2 linked regions of the Homo sapiens genome follow. The protein of the gene in region 1 interacts with the protein of each later gene in a biochemical or structural test. Each region holds a gene or a part of one and is shown in the gene's direction. Other genes may lie near its edges. The genes, in order: TGS1 and MED1.

Region 1 (3,824 bases):
AAAGGGGGAAGCACCTTATAAAACCATCAGATCTCATAAGAACTAACTCACCATCACAAGAAGAGAGTGGGAGAAACTGCCCCCATGATTCAACTATCTTTACCTGATTCCTCCCACAACACGTGGGGATTATGGGAACTATGATTCAAGATAAGATTTGGGTGGGGACACAGCCAAACCATACCAGTAGGATCCTAATAGTCCAAATTCTGATACAGCTTTATATTATAAGCTTTAATTCTGAGTTCTTCCAGAAGTGATCAGTCACAGTTTACACCTTGTAACAAGTTCACCCTGATAGCATGAAACACAGGCCAATTTATTGATTCACATTATTACCTGAAATATTCATATATTGGACTTTGCTATACCTGCCATCCAAGTACCTGGGAAACAAAAGTAGTTAGAAAATTGCTTGGTGTGATGAATTACCTTTCTATATTCTAAGGGGTAAAAAACACTTTCTAATGAGCAGAACCTTCATGTCAATCACATCTCCAGCAGCTCTTCAGGACAGTAGACCATAATCTTAGACTCCATGATGTCTCTGTCTCTGTTGTTCGTTTTTTAAGGCTAGTCAGATGACTCTTTTTCCCCTCAATACAGTGTCCTCCCTAACTTCAGCATACTTGTAAAATATGCTACATATATATAGCTGGTTTTATTTTGTATTACATTTCAGGTTGGTTGGCTGCTGGTGATGTTTTAATAAATATGTTCGTGGTGCTAGTTATATCTGAAACAGACTGCCTAGTATTAGTCCAGTCAGTGCCATAGGACTTTCCGTAATGTGTTGGATATAATAGCCCCTATGCATTCATCTATAGATGAGTGCAGAAACAGCTACTAAGCATTGCTGAGGAAAAAAGATATGTAACTGTTGTGTCTAACTTAGATACCTAATTTATTTATAGGCACATTTCTTTAGAGGAAGATTCTGGGTTGTTGCCCATCATGTCTACCACTTCATTCTAATTTACTCACTCTCAGGAAGGTCATGAAGACAAGATAGGAAGAATATTCTTGTTACAGAAGATGCAAAGAAGTATATGATCTGATGCTGAGCCTTGTTTACATTCCAAAGAACAAACATTTGCTGGGACATATCTTACTGGCTCTACTGTTGCATTAAAAGGCAACTTTGATTTTTTTCCAAGGTAGACTGCTTCTATTCTTACAGAAGAATTGGCCCTAAATCTTTTTAGGGTTCGTCTTTGATGCTAAGTAACATTTACATAGATTGTAGCTTGACCATTGCAGAAAGGTCTATATAATTTGAAAAACTAAAATTAATGATTCAGTAGTAAGTAGGTACATTTGTAATGTAGCTGTAGCACAGTTAAATTGTTAAGAACCCTTATGGAAAAGCCACTGGGACAGTTTGGCTTTATCCTCTTAGTATTTATTGATAGCAGGAAGTATTTAATCTGATATTTTTTTCCTTTTAAAGAAAACTTTTAATAAGGTCATGGCATGCCCAGATAGCATTCTGATTAGGTCAGAATTACTTACTATTAAGCTTGTGTGATGCAGTCTGCTTTTCAGAGCCAATAATTTTGACACAGCTTTTCAGTCAAGTCACAAATTGTAATAGGTAGGAAGATTCTGTGTAGTTTGGAATTAATTCCTGCTCATGATGTCATCTTAAAATTTAAGGTAGAAAAATTCCTCACATGGGTTAATAAACCAATGGATGAAGAAGCATCACAGGAATCATCTTCTCATGACAATGTGCACGACGCTTCCACAAGTAGTGATTCAGAGGAACAAGACATGTCTGTTAAAAAAGGTGATGACCTACTGGAGACTAATAATCCAGAACCTGAAAAGTGTCAGAGCGTATCTTCAGCTGGTGAACTTGAAACAGAAAACTATGAAAGAGACAGCTTGCTAGCAACTGTTCCAGATGAGCAGGATTGTGTTACTCAAGAAGTGCCAGACTCCCGCCAGGCAGAAACTGAAGGTAACACTAAATATGCTTCAACTTGCTAATGGATTTAGATAAAATTTTTTTTGTTAATATGTTTTTTCTTAGTTTTCACTTGTGAATCTTCTGTACCTAAGGAGTCACTGCTACTTATTTTTAAGTGAGAGAAGGCATATTAAGTGTACATGTTCTAACTGGCTATGACTTAGCACCCACAGCACTCCTCACTCTTGGCTGAGTGAACATGATCAAGTAGAAAAGGAAAGACTGTTGGGAGCATTGTGTCTGCAGACCACTGTCTGCAGTTCAACTTGGCCTCTGCTGGTACTCAGTTCCATGGGCTAAAGGTGACCATCCTTTGCCTTCTTCGTATGTGGTGTAGCTTTGGTTTACTTCTTCCTTTTTTTGTGTGAGACAGGGTCTCATTCTGTTGCCCAGGCTGGAGTGCAGTGGCACAATCACAGCTCACTACATCCTTGACCCCCAGGGTTCAAGCAGTCCTCCCACCTCAGCTTGAGTAGCTGGGACTACATGTGCATACCACCATGCCTGCTTAATTATTTAATTTTTTTTGTAGAGACACAGGGTCTCACTATATTGCTGAGGCTGGTTGCCAAAGGCTCAAGCAGTCCTCCCACCTTTGCCTCCCAAAGTGCTGGGATTACAGACATGAGCCACCATGCTCAGGCTGGTTTCCTTTTGGTGTGTTTTTGTGTGTTTGTGTGTGTGTGGTTGATGATGGTCATGTGTTTTTGATGGCACGTTAATATAAAAAGTATTCAGAGCAGTTGGCTCTAATGAATAAACTGAGTAACATTTTCAATTTATGCACTTTTGTATTCGAATTTTTATAGCAAAAGTTCTTATATAGTTTAATAATGGTATTATGAAACCATTATATTTATTGTGATCCTTCATCATATTTCTTTATTACTATGGAAAATAACTTATTTGAGTCTTGATTTTTTTTTTCTTAGTGCAAGTGTGGGTGTATGTGTATGTGTGATCTTTTTATCACATATTTCTTTACATTCTAAACAGCATACCTACAGTAGTTTACATTTATTTTATTATCAATGTTATAATAACCGATGTTCATATGACATTTGTAGGTTTGTGAAATGCTTTTATGTGTCTTATTCTCATTTAATCTGTAAGGTAGCCAGGGAAGTAGGTGGAATTATTTTCCATTCTGTAAATACAGAAAGTAAAGCTGAGAGAAATTTAAAAATTAGCCCAAGTAAGTGGCATAGCTAGGACTCATTACCAGCTTCTCCAATTGCTAAGTCCCATTTTCCTGCACTATCCCACTTCCATAAACACCAATTCTCATGATGCTGGTTATTTTTACCTGGGGTAGTACCACCTTCACAAGGGCATTTGGAAGATGCTGGTTGTTAGAATGACATTTGGAATTCTGGCATTTAGTACTCAGTTACTTAATGTTAGGTCATGTACAGGATGGTCTTGCACAACAAAGAATTATTCCACCCACAATGTCATTATACCCCCTGTTGACAAATAATCACCTTACTTTGCTATTGGTAACACTTGTTTGGGGATGGGGAGATCTGACCTTACTGAATCATGATGACACTTTTTACTATTTACAATGATCAGATGAACATATTAGGACATAGCCCTATCCTTGAGGACCATTTGAGTGTGTAATGGAGTCTTATTCTTTGTTAGCCATCACCTCTTGTTTTTATACTTAACTGTGAAAAAAGTCTCATCTTTCTATGTTGTTGCTTCTAATTTGCTGAAGACTGAAACCAAATAACCAAACTGATAAAAATTATTTAAGGAAAAAATCACTCTCTGAATGAATGAGATCCTTTTCCGTGGAATGGAGCTAGTGACCCTTGTTTCAGTTTCTCAGATGCCATGTGACTTC
Region 2 (3,824 bases), on another chromosome or scaffold:
TACTAAAAATACAAAAATTACCCAAGCATGGTGGTACGCGCCTGTAATCCCAGCTACTCAGGAGGCTAAGGCAAGAGAATTGCTTGAACCCGGGAGGAGGAGGTTGCAGTGAGTCAAGATTGCGTCACTGCACTCCAGTCTGGGTGACAGAGCGAGACTCCATCTCAAAAAAAGAAAAAAAGTACTTTTGAATAAATAAGTAAATGAGCAACTCATAAGAAGAGATATAAACGATCTGACCTGAGATAATCAGCTTACTCATTGTTTAAAAAGTGTAGAAGGATGGGCCTGGTAGTTTATGCCTGTAGTCCTAGCTACTTGGGAGGTTTGGGCGGGAGGATTGCTTGAGCCCAGGAGTTTGAGACTGTAGCATACCATGATCGTGCATGTAAATAGTCATGGTACTCCAGCCTGGGCAACGTAGTGAGTTACTGATCAAAAAAAAAGTGAAGTTTTCTAAATTAAAGAACTATGGTAATGGACATTATTTTCTGTTTGCCCTTGATACAAGAAAAGATAAAGAGAGATAGACTGCCGGGCGCGGTGGCTCATGCCTGTAATCCCAGCACTTTGGGAGGCTGAGGTGGGCGAATCACCTGAGGTCAGGAGTTCGAGACCAGCCTGACCAACATGGAGAAACCCTGTCTCTACTAAAAATACAAAATTAGCCAGGCGTGATGGCCCATGCTTGTAATCCCAGCTACTCAGGAAGCTGAGGCAGGAGAATCGCTTGAACCTGGGAGGCGGAGGTTGCAGTGAACCGAGATTGTGCCATTGCACTCCAGCCTGGGCAACAAGAGCAAAACTCTGTCTCAAAAAAAAGTGAAATGGACTAATACCTCCTTAGGTCCCTTTGTAGCTTCACTCATTGACTCCATCCCTTTATTGTTTGTTTGTTTGTTTGTTTATTTATTTATTTAAGATGGAGTCTCACTCTGTCACCCAGGCTGGAGTGCAGTAGTGCGATCTCAGCTCACTGCAACCTACACCTCCTGGGTTCAAGTGATTCTCCTGCCTCAGCCTCCCAAGTAGCTGGGACTACAGGCATGCACCACCACACCCGGCTAATTCTTGTATTTTTAGTAGAGATGGGGTTTCACTATGTTGGCCAAGCTGGTCTTGAACTCCTTACCTGAAGTGATCCACCTGTCTTGGCCTCCGAAAGTGCTAGGATTACAGGTGCGAGCCTTGGCGTCAGGCTCCTTTATTGTTATTATAATTTGGCATGGGGGACGGGGTAGGTCTCACTGTGTTGCCCAGGCTGGCGTACAGTGATTTGATCACAGCTCACTACAGCCCCCGAAGTCCTGGGCTCAAGCCATCCTCCCGCCTTGGCCTCCCAAAGTGCTAGGATTACAGGTGTGAGCCAGTGCACCAGCCTGTCCTTTTATTATGATCCTACTTAAATGCATTCTGAAGAAAAAATAAGTAAATATTGATACTGAACCCTTCAAAAATGATGTTTTTGGACTGCATTGTTTCTTGTGTTTTATTTACTGACAAAAATTATTGGTTGATTAGAAAGGTAACTTCCAGGATTTCTAATTTTTTTTTTTTTTTTCCCCAGACAGAGTCTCACTCTGTCGCCCAGGCTGGAGTGCAGTGGTGCGATTTCGGCTCACTGCAACCTCCGCCCCCCAGGTTCAAGTGATTCTCCTGCCTCAGCCTCCTGAGTAGCTGGGATTACAGGCGCCTGTCACCACACCTGGCTAATTTTTGTGTTTTTAGTAGAGATGCGGTTTCACCGTCTTCTGCAGGCTGGTCTTGAACCCCTGACCTTGTGATCCACCCGCCTCAGCCTCCCAAAGTGCTGGGATTACAGGCATGAGCCATCACACCTGGCCTGATTTCTAAGTTTTATAGGAACTACAGGCCGTGCCTGGTGGTTCATGCCTGTAATTTCAGCACTGTGGGAGGCTGAGATGGGTGGATCAACTTTAGGCCAGGAGTTTGAGACCAGCCTGGCCAACCTGATGAAACCCCCATCTCTACAAAACATACAAAAAAATTAGCCAGGCATGGTGGTGCATTCCTGTAATGCCATGTACGTGGGAGGCTGAGGCATGAAAATTTCTTGAACCTGGGAGGTGGAGATTGCAGTGAGTCGAGATCACACCACTGCATTCCAGTCTGGACAGAGTGAGACTCTGCCTCCAATAAAAAAATAAATAAATAGGCTGGGCGCAGTGATTCACACCTGTAATCCCACCTGTAATCCTAGTCCTTCGGGAGGCCAAGATGGGCGGATCATGAAGTCAAGAGATCGAGACCATCCTGACCAACATGGTGAAACCCCATCTCTACTAAAAATACAAAAAATTAGCCGGGCATGGTGATGGGCGCCTGTAGTTCCAGCTACTTGGGTGGCTGAGGCAGGAGAATGGTGTGAACCCAGGAGGTGGAGCTTGCAGTGAGCTGAGATTGCGCCACTGCACTCCAGCCTGGGTGACAGAGCAAGACTCTGTCTCAAAATAAATAAATAAATACATAAATAAATAAATAAGGGAATAACAGCATCTGATAAATTATAGCTGACAAATATTGCAAAAATTAACCTCTTAAAACATACTGTGATTCCCATCATTTGTATTACTTTGAGGAATACCCTTTTTCTTTCCTATCCCCAGTTTCTCGATCTTTGGGCATGAATGCATCAGTGACAATTGAAGGAACATCTGCTGTGTACAAACTCCCAATTGCACCATTAATTATGGGGTCACATCCAGTTGACAATAAATGGTAAGTTAAATATAATTTTAGAGTAGCAAAGTCAATTTTTCTCAAAGCGCAGTATGTAACAAGTTTTAACCTGGCTGTTACCCCACTTGAATTTCTAGAGGTTGGCCTTTTGTTTTATCCATTCATTGGTTTCTCTTTTGTTTGATATCTGAGTGTTCCTCTCCAAAGTCGGCTCGTAGAACACATTCTCTGCACTGAAAGGGAAAGAAGAGAACTGTGCTAATTCCTCTGGCTTAATGAGTGCCCCCTTTTATCTTACGTTCATTAGTTACATTGGAGTAATAACTGGAGAACATGCCTCAGGATAAATGTTTGATTAAATTCTACAGTGTTAACCAATAGCATGTCTGGGAATTGGGGGTAGGAAGTTTCACAGAGTGAGCTTTTGAGAGTTTGTACTTATGTGTCTGTGTGATACATACATGTTTAAGAATAGGTGTTTGTGGCCAGGCATGGTGGCTCACGCCTGTAATCCCAGCACTTTGGGAGGCTGAGGCAAGTGGAACACCTGAGGTCAGGAGTTCAAGACCAGCCTGGCCAACATGGTGAAACCCCATCTCTACTAACAATACAAAAATTAGCCGGGCGTGGTGGCGGGCACCTGTAGTCCCAGCTACTCACGAAGCTGAGATAGGAGAATCCCTTGAACCCGGGAGGCAGAGGTTGCAGTGAGCCAAGATCACGCCATTGCACTCTAGCCTGGGCATTAAGAGGGAAAATCTGTCTCAAAAAAAAAAAAGGTGTTTGGGTTTTTCATTTTTATATCAAGTCAGAATCCAACCCTTCCACCCTCTTTTTTTTGAAGGACCCCTTCCTTCTCCTCAATCACCAGTGCCAACAGTGTTGATCTTCCTGCCTGTTTCTTCTTGAAATTTCCCCAGCCAATCCCAGTATCTAGAGCATTTGTTCAGAAACTGCAGAACTGCACAGGTGAGTTTTGAGCATCAGGATCTAGTACTTGTTATAAATGTGAAAAAGAAACTTCAAAGTCAGGTTATCATGACGTCTTTCAGTCTTACATGCCTCATTGAAGTATTACTGGTAAAGATGTTATAGTGCTTTGTACTAGTAAATGCTTAGTAAGT

Evidence for each region.
Region 2: the proteins of TGS1 (region 1) and MED1 form a complex in vitro, tested with the Homo sapiens proteins (one study listed by BioGRID).

What each region holds. Positions count from the first base shown.
Region 1 is NC_000008.11:55,797,258-55,801,081, forward strand, and holds part of TGS1 (trimethylguanosine synthase), read left to right. Parts: intron 1-1,656; coding exon 1,657-1,963; intron 1,964-3,824. UniProt on the Homo sapiens protein: Catalyzes the 2 serial methylation steps for the conversion of the 7-monomethylguanosine (m(7)G) caps of snRNAs and snoRNAs to a 2,2,7-trimethylguanosine (m(2,2,7)G) cap structure.
Region 2 is NC_000017.11:39,423,542-39,427,365, reverse strand, and holds part of MED1 (mediator of RNA polymerase II transcription subunit 1), read left to right. Parts: intron 1-2,627; coding exon 2,628-2,739; intron 2,740-3,544; coding exon 3,545-3,669; intron 3,670-3,824. UniProt on the Homo sapiens protein: Component of the Mediator complex, a coactivator involved in the regulated transcription of nearly all RNA polymerase II-dependent genes.